4 linked regions of the Homo sapiens genome follow. The protein of the gene in region 1 interacts with the protein of each later gene in a pairwise test. Each region holds a gene or a part of one and is shown in the gene's direction. Other genes may lie near its edges.

Region 1 (3,500 bases):
GTAAACAAAATAGACAAAGGCCCTAATGTCATGGATTTCACATTCTAATAGAGGAGATAGAAAATAAACCTGCAGGCCGGGTACAGTGGCTCATGCCTGTAATCCCAGCACTTTGGGAGGCTGAGGCGGATGGATCACTTGAGGTCAGGAGCTTGAGACCAGCCTGGCCAACATGGCAAAACCCCATCTCTACTAAAAGTATAAAAATTAGCTGGGTGTGGTGGCACGTGCTTGTAGTCCCAGCTACTCGGGAGGCCGAGGCACAAGAATTGCTTGAACCCGGGAGGTGGAGCCAAAATTGTACCACTGCACTCCAGCCTGGGCAACAGAGCAAGACTTTGTCTCAAAAAAAAAAAAAGAAAAAAAACCAAAACCCTGCAAATCAACAGATGTGTAACATTGGGCAGTGGTAAGTGAAGGGATAGTGAGTGATTATGGGGAATGGGGTGCTAGTATTTCAGGCCAGGGTTAGGAAGGCTTCTGTAAGGAGGTGACATTTTTTTTCTTTTTACTTTTCTTTTTATTTTTTATTTTTATTTATTTATTATGAGGTGGAGTCTCACTCTTGTCGCCCAGGCTAGAGTGCAGTGTCACAATCTCGGCTCACTGCAACCTCCGCCTCCTGGGTTCAAGGTATTCTACTGCCTCAGCCTCCTGAGTAGCTGGGATTACAGGTGCCCGCCCCCATGCCTGGCTAATTTTTTTTTTTTTTTGTATTTTTAGTAGAGATGGGGTTTCACCACGTTGGCCAGGTTGGTTTCAAACTCCTGACCTCAAGTGATCCGCCCACCTCAGCCTCCCAAAATGCTGGGATTACAGGCATGAGCCACCGTGCCTGGCCTTTTTCTTTTTTAAAAAGAGACAGTCTCACTGTGTCACTAAGGTGGAGTGCAGTAGCATGATCACAGCTCACTGCAACCTCAAAGTCCTGGGCTTAAGCAATCCTCTTGCCTCAGTCTCCTGAGTAGCTGAGACTACAGGCATGTTCCACCATATCCGGCTAATTTAAAAGAAATTTTTTCGGCCAGGTGCTGTGGCTCACGCCTGTAATCCCAGCACTTTGGGAGGCTGAGGCGGGTGGATCATGAGGTCAGGAGTTTCAGACCAGCCTGACCAACATGGTGAAACCCCATCTGTACTAAAAATACAAAAATTAGCCAGGCATGGTGGCGTGCACCTGTAATCCCAGCTACTCAGGAGGCTGAGGCAGGAGAATCACGTGAACCTGGGAGGCGGAAGTTGCAGTGAGCCGAGATCGCACCACTGCGCTCCAGCCTGGCGACAGAGCAAGACTCAGTCTCAAAAAAAAAAAAAAAAAAAAAAAAAAATTCTAGAGACAAGGTCTCACTATGTTACCCAGGCTGGTCTCAAACTCCTGACCTCAAGCAGTCCTCCCACCTTGGCCTGAGCACCAGAATGAAGGGGAGAGTAAGGCAGTGGATCTTTGGGAAAGGAGTGTTCCAGGAAGAACAGAGATGCTTCTGGTTATTTTAGGAGGTCATGAAACTCTCAAAAATTGTCAAAACAGTTAGTCTTAATTTATCATAACCAAAAAGAAATTATACCTTACCTTATGGAAATAATAAAATTTAGCATCGTATTTTGATAAAATGTTACAACTCCAAAATGATCGGGAGTCTGTGGATAAGCCCATGCCTGTACCATGGCACCAGCTGTTATCTGGCTAAATATTTTGTAATCTATGTTGTAAAACTTCCTCTTCTGAAACTTCCCCTCAAAGTTGAACAAACACAAATTAGAACAACATGAGAGTGATTTAAGAAACATGGTTTCAGATTTACAAAAATACGTGGTAGCTCGTGGTAGCTCAGGGTTCATCCCCATCCTTCAACATCCCTCTTGAAATCAGAATGGGATTATTTTTATATTTTTCTTCCAATTCCTTATTGTGTATAGAGAATGGATACTGTTTTGAAAGCAAAATGTTGGAAACTGAGCATGATGCTAAGATGCCTTTATAAAAACATGAAGATGCCAGGTGCGGTGGCTCATGCCTGTAATCCCAGCACTTTGGGAGACTGGGGTGGGTGGATCATGAGGTCAGGAGTTTGAGACCAGCCTGGCCAAGATGGTGAAACCCCGTCTCTACTAAAAATACAAAAAAATTAGCTGGGCATGGTGGCAGGTGCCTGTAATCCCAGCTACTTGGGAGGCTGAGGCAGGAGAATCACTTGAACCTGGGAGGCGGAGGTTGCAGTGAGCCAAGATCACACCACTGCACTCTAGCCTGGGCAACAGAGCAAGACTCCATCTCAAACAAACAAACAAACAGCATGAAGAAACACTGGGGTATAAATAAGATTTAAATAGTAATAGTATGAGTTCCCATTTTGTTGGGTTATGAACTTTTCTTTTTATTAAAGTTGGCCCTATCACTAATAGATAATTTCCAAAATACCACACATTTAATGGCTTAAAACAACACAAATTTATTATTTTACAGTTCTGTAGGTCAGAAGTCCCAAACAGGCTACGTCTGGTAGCTGATGCCTATAATCCCAGCATTTTGGGAGGCCGAGGTGGGAGAATCACTTGAGGCCAGGAGTTCGACACCAGCCTGGTCAACATAGAAAGACCACACTCCACAAAAAAAAGTTTAAAAATTAGCAGGTGTAGTAGTGTGCACCTGTAGTCCCAGCTACTTGAGAAGCTGATGCAGGAGCACTGCAGCCTGAGCAATAAAGCAAGACCCTCTCTCTGTGGGAAAAAAAGTCCCAAATAAATTTCAGTGGGCTAAAGCCAGGGTGTTGGCAGGGTGCGTTCCTTCTGGAGGTTCAGTGGGAAGACTCTACTCCTTTGCCTTTTCTAGCTCCAGAGGCTACTGCATTCCTTGGCTCATGGCCCCCTCCCCATCTTCAAAGCCAACGATGGCTGAGTCTTTCTCACATCATATCACTCTAACATTTACCTTCTCGTCTCCCTCTTTCATGTATAAGGACTCTTATGAGTACACTGGACTCACTTGGATAATCCAGAGTACTCTCCCATCTCAAAATCCTTAATCTCATCACATCTGCAAAGTTCCTTTTGCCATGTGTTCACAGCTTCTGGGAATTGGCATGTGGACATCATATTCTGCCTACCACAAGTATTAATAGAACAGAACTTGTCACTGCCAACCCAGAGTCACTCTGCCCTCCTTGGAAGCCTGTATCATCAATCACAGTACAAACATGATTTAGGTTTTGCCTTAGATACTGTCATGTTAATGAAATTTCAGAATAGCAAAGAAAGTTGTTTTGAGAAATATTTTTTCAAAGCAAACATTCTTCTCAATAAAATTTTTTTTTTACTTCCTATACTCTTGCTTATAACTTGCCACTTTAATTTTTTTTTTTTTTTTTTTTTTTACTGCCGTTGAGGCAGAAAGGAAAATGAAGCTCTTAGGAAGCTCAATTTAAATTCTCAGTTGATCACATTAAGGAGCAAATAATTGAAGTTACAGGACTCTTCTAGTCATTCTTTTTGGAAAGAAATTA
Region 2 (4,113 bases), on another chromosome or scaffold:
GTAACAAAGCAGGCTAATAGATGGCTAGGAAAGGCCCTCTCAGACGCACATCCCTGCAATACCCTTCCTGATGGCTTTAATCTACCCCAGGTAGAAGAGTGTCACAAGTGAGTACGCTGGACCGCAAGTCAGATGACCAGAGTCTAAACTGCTGTGTGATTTGTGGAGATTCTCTTCTATTTTTTGGATCTCAGTTGCTTTATTAGTAAAATGAGAAAGATGAATTAGATGATCCCTTATGGTAATAAAACTATGTGACCTTTACAACTAGTATATCCAGATATCTCCTTTCATAAGGCAAGCTATAGCCATTAAATCAATTGAGATATAAGTACAATAATACAGATGTGGGTGCAAAACCAGGTATATTAAGCAAATGTTGTCCCAGTCCTAGCCAGACAATGCTGACAGACAGAGACGTGAGGCCACAAAGACAGTAAAATAAACTTTTTTAAAAAATTAAAATAGAAAACAATATTCAGGTATTGTTTGTAAGCAAAATACTAAATATATCCCATGGACTGCTGATAGAGGAAAAATCATCGATGCTGCATATTTAGACAGAGAAATACCCTGTTTCCAATATTTTCTTATGTTGAGTTTCATAGAGGAAACAAGATTTCACAAGCAACTTGGGCACCAAAAAAAAATGAGAGAAGCAGGACATCTCTGTTTGGAAGGCAATGCAATTTCGGAGCAAGTCCGAAGTGCCGGTGGAATGATTTGACAATGAATAAGAGGCGACTGATTGAAGGAAACAAAAGAAGCTATCTTTGGCTGCTCTTCATGAAGCAAGTTTCAAAATTAAATTTCCAAGCAACTTTGAAAAAGCACAATAAATTGCAAAAAAAAAAAAAAAAAAAAAAAGGAAATCTTTTTGAGAGAAAGCAACGTTTTTATAACCCTCTGCTAAAGAGCAGAAGTTTTCCTCCCGAGTACACTATCTGTAACTGCGCAGGCAGTTGAAAAGACTTCACACAGGCGACTCTGTGAAACAGAAGAGCAGTAGGCAACAAAGTCCAGGGATTCCAGAACTTAGCTGTCTTTGAAACAACACCTTACATTCCAAAGGCCAACAACTTTAAGATTGCCAACGACTCAAATTATTTATAGGAGATTGATTCATATACTTAACCCAATATGAGAGGAAATATTTCTAATTATATCCAAACATCTTTAATATGAGGGGAATTAGGCTTGGAGACCTTCAATGCCAAAAACATGTTTTGCCAAATATGTTTTAAGAAAGAGGAGGAGGTTACGTGTTTTCCATATTTGAGCCTATAAAAGTACCCTTGGAATGAGTATGACTTGTCTCTCCTCATAAAGCTTCAAGGTAAGTGTGTGTGAGGACAGGGCTCTGTCTGGAGGACGGTAAGGGATGTCTGGCTGCCCGCGTGCATGCCACACATCCTGGCTCCCACTGTCCCTGGCAGCCCTGCCAGTGAAGCACCAGCTTACTCCGTAGCAATTTTAATTAGATGTTGTAGTCTTCCCAGTCATTTCCTGGTTCTCAGTTAAGAATTGTTCTATAATCGGGAATTGTTATAATTTAATCAGAAGAGGTTTGCTCTTTTTCTTACAGTTCTGATCCACTTTAAGGTCGCATCTCTACGGTAAGATTCTGATTTTTTTTTTTCTCATTCCTCACAGAGTGCAAGGAATCTTCTGCAGTGGTTTGGACAGTGGTGAGGGGCGGGGTGAGGGAAGTGATAAAAAAAATCATTTCCATTTCATGGTTGATCACGCTTCTCTTAAAAAATGGAGAATGACTTTAGAAACTGGTTCTCCTTAACTCATATCCCTCGCAATATATGAAAATGCTTTCTCAGAGTCCTTGGGAATTTTATTCACAATAGTGAATTTCATTCACTATTTCCAGCATTGTAGTTTATCTTTTAAATGACTGCATTACAATATGCAATGTAACATTTCAAAGTGTTACTCAATTATAGAGAAAATTTAAATTTTCTATACCATGGCTTTTCCTCAGCACTATAAATATAAAAACCTATGAGAGATGATGTCTAATTGGATAAATAGAATGGTCTGAATCTTTGCCTTGGAAAAAGTTGCTTAACTGCATGTTGTTTCACAATCTATAAAATAAAAATTAACGAATATATACACACACACACACACATATGTATATATACACACACACAATACGAAACATGATTGTCAGCATATTCAGCAAGATGAAGCATTTTAATTATGTTATCTGAGTCAACATAGTTTCAATGGGAGAAATGTATCCAAATGAGCTTCCCTGGAAAAGGTATCTTTATTATTATAAAGTAGAATATACATGAAGATTATTGACAGCATTAATGAATGCTAGCTAATGTGGCAAGAGGGGGATCCTGAAAAGAACAAGTTTTGTGAAATTGTTATAAAAATGTTAATAATAGAGCAAGAAAACATAGGTAATAACGTTTTATAATAAATATTTAAGAAATGCTAAAGATCAGTGAAGAAGTTGAGTTTGTCAAAATTATTATACAGAGACAACAGAAATTGATGGATAACAGAACATTTTTTAACAATGCAAAACAAAGAGCCACACATTTCTGCTTTCCTGTATATTAGGAAGTCTTCGTAACTCCCAAGTTTATAATGAAAATATTTCTGTCATGTACAGAATAGTTCCTAAAATTATAGCAACATATTCCTATTGTTCTTTTAATTCACCAAGCCAGCTTTGAGCCTTTCTCTGTGTCCAGCATTTGTTCTAAGAGGTGTGAAGGATACCATAAAAAGAAGAGTGCTCCCTGCCTGCAAGGTGCTTATAATCCAGTTGGGAAGATAAAAACTATAAGTGAAAGAACTGGAGACTATCCTGCCACCATTATAGCTTTATGTTCTCTATAAGCCAATGATAGGCAGCTTATAAAGATTAATATACCTAACAAATGAAACAGAGAAAGCAGCTAAGAGACTGCAATAGGTGAGCCAGAAACAACAGTCTCTTTCCAAATGCATGATTAAGTGTCTGTCAGCACTGGCACAGAACAAGGAGACTGACATTTTATCCTCAACCAAGCCAGGGAGGTGGTCATACCCAATGCAATGCTAAGCACTCAATTGGTCAGTAAATTTTTTTTTAAAGTTTTAAATGTGAATCTAATGGTCCAGTTTCTTAATTTCTACAATTTCTTTTCTTCCTCTCCCAGCCAGGGTCCTTAACTGGGCTACCATCAATAACCTGCAGCCATGAGTTCCGACTCTGAGATGGCCATTTTTGGGGAGGCTGCTCCTTTCCTCCGAAAGTCTGAAAGGGAGCGAATTGAAGCCCAGAACAAGCCTTTTGATGCCAAGACATCAGTCTTTGTGGTGGACCCTAAGGAGTCCTTTGTGAAAGCAACAGTGCAGAGCAGGGAAGGGGGGAAGGTGACAGCTAAGACCGAAGCTGGAGCTGTGAGTAAAAACACCTGGAGCTGATTAGACTCTGCCTCATTTTGGGTTAAGTTAGCACTTACTTTTTGATCTGGCCTCTCTTGTTTGACTGGACAGACTGTAACAGTGAAAGATGACCAAGTCTTCCCCATGAACCCTCCCAAATATGACAAGATCGAGGACATGGCCATGATGACTCATCTACACGAGCCTGCTGTGCTGTACAACCTCAAAGAGCGCTACGCAGCCTGGATGATCTACGTGAGTTCTTTCTCACGGTCTTCTACTCATGAGAGTAGTTAATAGTTTTTGAAAAGTAGTAGATGATTAAGGTCCCCATCAAATAATTCTGTTCCTCCCTTTTGTTTTGGGTGCAGACCTACTCAGGCTTGTTCTGTGTCACTGTCAACCCCTACAAGTGGTTGCCAGTGTATAATGCAGAGGTGGTGACAGCCTACCGAGGCAAAAAGCGCCAGGAGGCCCCACCCCACATCTTCTCCATCTCTGACAATGCCTATCAGTTCATGCTGACTGGTGAGTGGCTCAGCTGGTTTTCATATGAATTATTTTACCATCCATAATCACAAAATATTAGAACTAAAAAAAGACCTTTAGAAAAAAACCCAATTCACGCCCCTGGTTGTTCAGCAGAGGTGACTAAAGCACAGAGAAGTATATACTGTCAAAGCTCGTATTAAAACACAGCTCTCCTGATTA
Region 3 (3,500 bases), on another chromosome or scaffold:
GATCTTCCCAATCAGTTTTTATGAGCAGGGTTTATAACTTAACTTTCCATCTTAGCTTTAATTCTCATGGTACAATTTACAGAATAGGTACTCAACAATATTTTTGACACTGATGTTGCATAAAGTTTTTACTATGGATATGACATATAAAGATTGGCTGCAGTTTTATCCATTCAACATGTAATGATTAAATGCCTTCTGCATGTCATGTGCTGGGGATACAGTGGAGTAAACACAGACACAGACTGCCCTCCCCAGTGGAAAGTACTTGTACATACTGTCCTCTGGCACACCATCTCTGTGATTGAGAATTTAAATGCTCTAAGCTTGTTCAGAAGGTACCTATGAATATATATAGTAATATATAAGAGTTAATTATTAATATCTACTTGTTGCCATTTATTGAGCGGGTGCATGTAATTGCATTTCATTTTCTTTGTTTTTTTTCTATTATTATTTTTCAATAAAAAATTTTGTGGGGGAGGAGATGGTATCTTGCTCTATTGCCCAGGCTGGTCTTGAATTCCTGAGTTTAAACAATCTTCCTGCCTTAGCCTCCCAAAGTGTTGGGACTATAGGTGTGAGCCACTGTGCCCAACCTGATTTTCTTAACTCTGAAAGATTGTCCACCTTTCACCAATGTGGAATCTAAGGCTCAGAAAAGTAAATTAGCCAAGCTCATACAAGTTGACTCTGTCTGACTTTAAAGCAGGGTGGAAAAATGCTATGTTTCTAGGCACTTCCTATTCCTATAAACAAGCCTCCTTGTTTTTTTTCTCTCTACAACAAAGTGGTCTTAAATAATACAACTCTTGAAAGGAAAAAGGAACATATGTTAATCCTAGACTTACACGGGCCACACCCTTTTACTTTTCACACTTTGTTGCTGGGAATCCCCCTTCCCTTCCTGTGTTCCATATGTTACCTGGAAGATAGTTCATGTGCCTTCGTAGATGCTTATATATTAGCTAAAAGTAAGACTATGTTTATACTCACATCTTAGGATATATGTAATATTTATTCTTAATTTGGTATTGCTTTTGTAAATAATTTCTGGAGAGGGATTTAATTATAAATTACATATTGTATACATCCTTGGTAACAGTCTTGGCAATATTCATACCTCAATTTTCTGGTGTATAAAGATAAAGCTTCTGTCTCCAAAAAGGAATGATTTCTGTACAAAGATGTTCATTGTACATGATAAGTGAATAATATATTTCTCCTACAACATTTTTTTAAAGATAACTGAACTGCTTAATGATGTGGAAAGATTAAAACAGGCACTCAATGGCCTTTCCCAACTCACCTACACAAGTGGGAACCCCACCAAGAGGCAGAGCCAGCTGATTGACACTCTGCAGCACCAAGTGAAATCTCTGGAGCAACAGCTGGCCGTGAGTAACCAGGCACACGGGGCTTTGCAGGAATATGTGCTGGCTCCCTGTAGTTAGTTTGTAAGGCTCATTTAGAAATTAAAGTGCTCTGTAGCTATGTTCGGATCCAAGAATATAATTATTTTTATATGCGAAAAGTTACCTATACTGGTGGTGTAATAATACTTATTTGATGCCTACTATACACCAGGCACCATATTAAACATTTTACGTACTTTATCTATAAACTTTATCTTCATCATGATCTCACAAAGCAGATTTATTCCCTCCATTTAATTCTTAAGGAAACAAAGAATAACATATTTGATGCCTGGGGTCATTCAGCTGGGGTATAAACCTGGAACTGGCTGACTCCAAATCCAGCATCTTTCTCATTGCAGGGTGCTCTCTAAAATATTGGTCCACTAAACTAAAGGAGGTTTTAAAATAATCTTTTATCTTTGTGAATAAAGAGGCATTCCTATGGTTTTATACCTTATATAGAAGGATAAGTGCCTGGATTTAGAAGCTAATGTTGGAAGGTCTGGTCTAAGTCCTGCCACTTACAAGGAAGTGGCAAGGAACATTCCCTTTAACTCTTGGTTTTCTCATCAAGAAAATAGAATAATAACTGATTACTTGTTTACATTTATTATTATTTTTATTATACTTTAAGTTCTAGGGTACATGTGCACAACGTGCAGGTTTGTTACATATGTATACATGGACCATGTTGGTGTGCTGCACCCATTAACTCGTCATTTAACATTAGATATATCACCTAATGCTATCCCTCCCCCCTCCCCCCACCCCACAACAGGCCCCAGTGTGTGATGTTCCCCTTCCTGTGTCCATGTGTTCTCACTGTTCAGTTCCCACCTATGAGTGAGAACATGCAGTGTTTGGTTTTTTGTCGTTGCGATAGTTTGCTGAGAATGATGGTTTCCAGCTTCATCCATGTCCCTACAAAGGACATGAACTCATCCTTTTTTATCACTGCATAGTATTCCATGGTGTATATGTGCCACATTTTCTTAATCCAGTCTATCATTGTTGGACATTTGGGTTGGTTCCAAGTCCTTGCTATTGTGAACAGTGCCGCAATAAACATATGTGTCTTTATAGCAGCATGTGTCTTTATAGCAGCATGATCTATAATCCTTTGGGTATATACCCAGTAATGGGATGGCTGGGTCAAATGGTATTTCTACTTTGAGATCCCTGAGGAATCGCCACACTGACTTCCACAATAGTTGAACTAGTTTACAGTCCCACCAACAGTGTAAAAGTGTTCCTATTTCTCCACATCCTCTCCAGCACCTGTTGTTTCCTGACTTTTTAATGATTGCCATTCTAACTGGTGTGAGATGGTATCTCACTGTGGTTTTGATTTGCATTTCTCTGACGGCCAGTGATGATGAGCATTTTTTCATGTGTCTTTTGGCTGCATAAATGTCTTCTTTTGAGAAGTGTCTGTTCATATCCTTCGCCCACTTGTTGATGGGGTTGTTTTTTTCTTGTAAATGTGTTTGAGTTCATTGTAGATTCTGGATATTAGCCCTTTGTCAGATGAGTGGATTGCAAAAATGTTCTCCCATTCTGTAGGTTGCCTGTTCACTCTGATGGTAGTTTCTTTTGCTGTGCAGAAGCTCTTTAGTTTAATTAGATCCCATTTGTCAATTTTGGCTTTTGTTGCCATTGCTTTTGGTGTTTTAGACATGAAGTCCTTGCCCATGCCTATGTCCTGAATGGTATTGCCTAGGTTTTCTTCTAGGGTTTTTATGGTTTTAGGTATAACATTTAAGTCTTTAATCCATCTTGAATTAATTTTTGTATAAGGTGTAAGGAAGGGATCCAGTTTCAGCTTTCTGCGTATGGCTAGCCAGTTTTCCCAGCACCATTTATTAAATAGGGAATGGTTTCCCCATTTCTTGTTTTTGTCAGGTTTGTCAAAGATCAGATAGTTGTAGATATGTGGCATTATTTCTGAGGGCTCTGTTCTGTTCCATTGGTCTGTATCTCTGTTTTGGTACCAGTAGCATGCTGTTTTGGTTACTGTAGCCTTGTAGTATAGTTTGAAGTTAGGTAGCATGATGCCTCCAGCTTTGTTCTTTTGACTTAGGA
Region 4 (3,500 bases), on another chromosome or scaffold:
AGAGAACACTTGGTCCAACACATAAAAAGGGTGATAATATTTTAGAGAGTTTGGGTAGACTTGAATATTATTTGTTTAGAACCTGAATCTCAAGTCTAAGTCTGTAACAAGATTTCTCTTCCAGATGATGAGGAGTCTGATGAGGAAGCTGTGAAGAAAACCAACAAATGTGTACTAGTCTGGGAGGTAGGTGATCCTTTGTAAAACATTGTAAAACTTTAGCCAACTCCTGAATATTTATACTATTTGAGTGGAGCAATGGAATGTAAGATGTAATCAGTGAATAATGTTTTAAATAATTTATGTTTCTTTTTGGAATCCATTTTTAAATGGTTGGCAGTAAATTCTTCCTGATCATCTGTTTAATTAAATTCGTGAGTATTTAGTATATGCTATCTGGGGAAGTGCGTGGACAGTGCTGCTGGTAGCAGGAATACAAATTCTCTACCGAAAATTATTTATTTCACAGTCATGAATATGAGACTTGGAAACGGGAATGAATTGTTGTTGGATTTACCTTTGGATATAGTGAAGGAAGTACTAGACTTAAGAATATAAAGTTAGGAGGCTGGGCAGTGCTGCTTATTAGCTGTGCAATCTGGGCAAGACACTTAATGTCAAATTCTGTTGCCTTAGCTATTGTTCTCTATATTGTCAAGTTTTTGAGAATGAAATTAGATAATTATGTGATAGTGCTTCATAAAATGTGACTGAATCACTCTTCAAGTGGAATATTTTTTATGGTTATCTAGTTCTTTAACCCCTGAAGCCTTCTTAGAGAACCAGTATTAAAACCAGTATTAATGTTTTCATGTTTGCTTTTAGGTATAGTACATGTATATCTTTTTTTGGGGGCGGGGGGGCGGGGGGCGGTATGGAGTTTCGCTCTTGTTGCTCTTGTTGCCCAGGCTGGAGTGCGATGGCGTGATCTCGGCTCACCGCAACCTCTACCTCCCAGGTTCAAACGATTCTCCTGCCTCAGCCTCCCAAGTAGCTGGGATTACAGGTGCACGCCACCATGCCCGACTAATTTTTGTATTTATAGTAGAGACAGGGTTTCTCCATGTTGGTCAGGCTGGTCTTGAACTCCCAACCTCAGGTGATCCGCCTGCCTCGGCCTCCCAAAGTGCTGGGATTACAGGCATGAGCCACTGTGCCCAGCCCCTCCATTTCTTTTTTTTTTTTTTTGAGAGAGTTTTGCCCTTGTTACCCAGGCTGGAGTGCAATGGTGCAATCTCAGCTCACCGCAACCACCGCCTCCTGGGTTCAAGTGATTCTCCTGCCTCGGCCTCCCGAGTAGCTGGAATTACAGGCATGAGCCACCACGCCTGGCTAATTTTGTATTTTTAGTAGAGACGGGGTTTCGCCATATTGGTCAAGCTGGTCTCGAACTCCTGACCTGAGGTCCGACTGCCTTGGCCTCCCAAAGTGCTGGGATTACAGGCATGAGTCACTGCGCCCGGCCATATATCTTCTATTTTTAAAATGTGCTTATTTCTAGTATATGTGCTGCTGAAGCGAGCAGTAAAATGTGCTTATTTCTATTAATGAATTCTTTATTATAAAAGTGGTACATTATTACAAAAGTAGTAAATGTTTATTAAGATTAGAAACAAATTCTAATTATACAGAAGAGTACTTACTGAGACCCAGCACAGTGGCTCACGCCTATAATCCCAGCACTTTGGGAGGATGAGGTGGTTGGATCACTTGAGCTCAGGAGTTCAAGACCAGCCTGGGCAATATGGCGAAACCCCGTCTCTACAAAAAATACAAAAATTAGCCTGGCCTGGTGGCGTCTGCCTGTAGTCCCAGCTACTTGAGAGGCTGAGGTGGGAAGATTGCTTCAGCTTTGGAGTTTGAAGCTGCAGTGAGCTGTGACTATGCCACTGCACTCCAGCCTGGGCACCAGAGTGAAACCCTGTCTTAAAAAAAAAAAAGAAAAAGTCTCAGGCCAGGTGCAGTGGCTCATGCCTATACTCCCAACACTTTGGGAGGCTGAGGTGGGCGGATTACGAGGTCAGGAATTCGAGACTAACCTGGCCAACATGGTGAAACCCAGTCTCTACTAAAAATACAAAAATTAGTGGGGCGTGGTGGCCAGTGCCTATAATCCCAGCTACTTGGGAGGCTGAGGCAGGAGAATCGCTTGAATCTGGGAAGCGGAGGTTGCAGTGAGCCGAGATCGCACCATTGCACTCCAGCCTGGGTGACAGTGCGAGACTGTGTCTCAAAACAAAAGTCTCTTCCTATTCGCTGATCTCTTCAGACCAGTCTTTATAGGTAATTGCTATTAATAGTTTTTCTTCTGAAGGAGCAATCAAAAAATAAAAATTAAAAAAAAAGGTTTTCATGTATCCTGCCTTATCCCAGATTCTTCAATTTATGCATACAAATTAGATGATAATAACCATAGTATTTGTTCTCTGTTTTATAAGTTCCCACCTGCATATTTGTTATCTTTTTTTAATCAACTTTTTTTTTTAGAGATAGGGTCTTGCTCTATTGCTCAGGCTGGTGTGCAGTGGCGCAGTCATAGCTCGCTACAGCCTTGAACTCCTAGGGACAAGCAATCCTCCAGTCTCAGCTTCTCAAGTATCTGAGACCTCAGGTCCACACCACTGTGCCTGGCTAATTTTTTTTTTTTTTTTTTTTTTTTTTAGAAATGGATCTCACTATGTTGCCTAGGCTTGTCTTGAACTCTTAGCCTTGAGTGATCCTCCCACCTCAGCCTCCCAAAGTGCTGGGATTATAGGCATGAGCTACTGTGCCCAGCCCTACCTTCACATATCTCAGCACCCTCATCTTTCAATTTTCTTCTATTTATCTCTGAAGAGTACTTACTGAAAAAGTCCCGGCTTCTTAGAGAACCAGTATTAATGTTGTAGGAATTTAGTTTTCAGGAATTGTCTCTCATGTTCAGAAATAAGCCAAGTTCTGCTCCAGCCTCCTTATTGGAGTCTACTCCCTGAACGCCTCTTGAGGTATTGCTTTATGACTGCCATTGCTGCTGGTAACTTTGGCAAGAATGCCATTCTGCCCAGTACTGTCTTTTTCTGTTGTAATTCTCTGCTGGTACCTGCTCTTCTTCTGTTCCCCGCCCCCAGTTGTTCTTTGTTGCTGGGCCCCAAAGCCTCCTGCTTATATAAATAGTTTCTGGGGCCTTTTTGAAGGCTCAGATTTAGTCCTTAAGGCCTGGTAGGAGATAAGTTTATCTCATTCCACCTTCCATAGTTCTTCCTGACTTGCTGTTCCACCCAGGCACCAGAGCAAATAATTCCTCACTTCATTTCAAAAAACTAAAAGCCTTATGCATATGAATTCGTAAAATCTCATACAAATATCCAAGGAGGCCGGGCGCGGTGGCTCACGCCTATAATCCCAGCACTTTGGGAGGCTGAGGCGGGAGGATCACGAGGTCAGGAGATCGAGACCATCCTGGCTAACACGGTGAAACCCCGTCTCTACTAGAAATACAAAAAATCAGCTGGGCGTGGTAG

Evidence for each region.
Region 2: the proteins of CCDC125 (region 1) and MYH1 interact in binary tests that used the Homo sapiens proteins (3 or more experiments, as listed by UniProt).
Region 3: the proteins of CCDC125 (region 1) and UACA interact in binary tests that used the Homo sapiens proteins (3 or more experiments, as listed by UniProt).
Region 4: the proteins of CCDC125 (region 1) and PRPF3 interact in binary tests that used the Homo sapiens proteins (3 or more experiments, as listed by UniProt).

Annotation. Positions count from the first base shown.
Region 1 is NC_000005.10:69,315,802-69,319,301, reverse strand, and holds part of CCDC125 (coiled-coil domain-containing protein 125), read left to right. Parts: intron 1-3,500. UniProt on the Homo sapiens protein: May be involved in the regulation of cell migration.
Region 2 is NC_000017.11:10,515,743-10,519,855, reverse strand, and holds the start of MYH1 (myosin-1), read left to right. Parts: upstream 1-1,313; 5' UTR 1,314-1,336; intron 1,337-1,585; 5' UTR 1,586-1,616; intron 1,617-3,173; 5' UTR 3,174-3,213; coding exon 3,214-3,417; intron 3,418-3,513; coding exon 3,514-3,657; intron 3,658-3,773; coding exon 3,774-3,930; intron 3,931-4,113. UniProt on the Homo sapiens protein: Required for normal hearing. It plays a role in cochlear amplification of auditory stimuli, likely through the positive regulation of prestin (SLC26A5) activity and outer hair cell (OHC) electromotility.
Region 3 is NC_000015.10:70,662,559-70,666,058, reverse strand, and holds part of UACA (uveal autoantigen with coiled-coil domains and ankyrin repeats), read left to right. Parts: intron 1-1,244; coding exon 1,245-1,397; intron 1,398-3,500. UniProt on the Homo sapiens protein: Regulates APAF1 expression and plays an important role in the regulation of stress-induced apoptosis. Promotes apoptosis by regulating three pathways, apoptosome up-regulation, LGALS3/galectin-3 down-regulation and NF-kappa-B inactivation.
Region 4 is NC_000001.11:150,349,033-150,352,532, forward strand, and holds part of PRPF3 (U4/U6 small nuclear ribonucleoprotein Prp3), read left to right. Parts: intron 1-124; coding exon 125-186; intron 187-3,500. UniProt on the Homo sapiens protein: Plays a role in pre-mRNA splicing as component of the U4/U6-U5 tri-snRNP complex that is involved in spliceosome assembly, and as component of the precatalytic spliceosome (spliceosome B complex).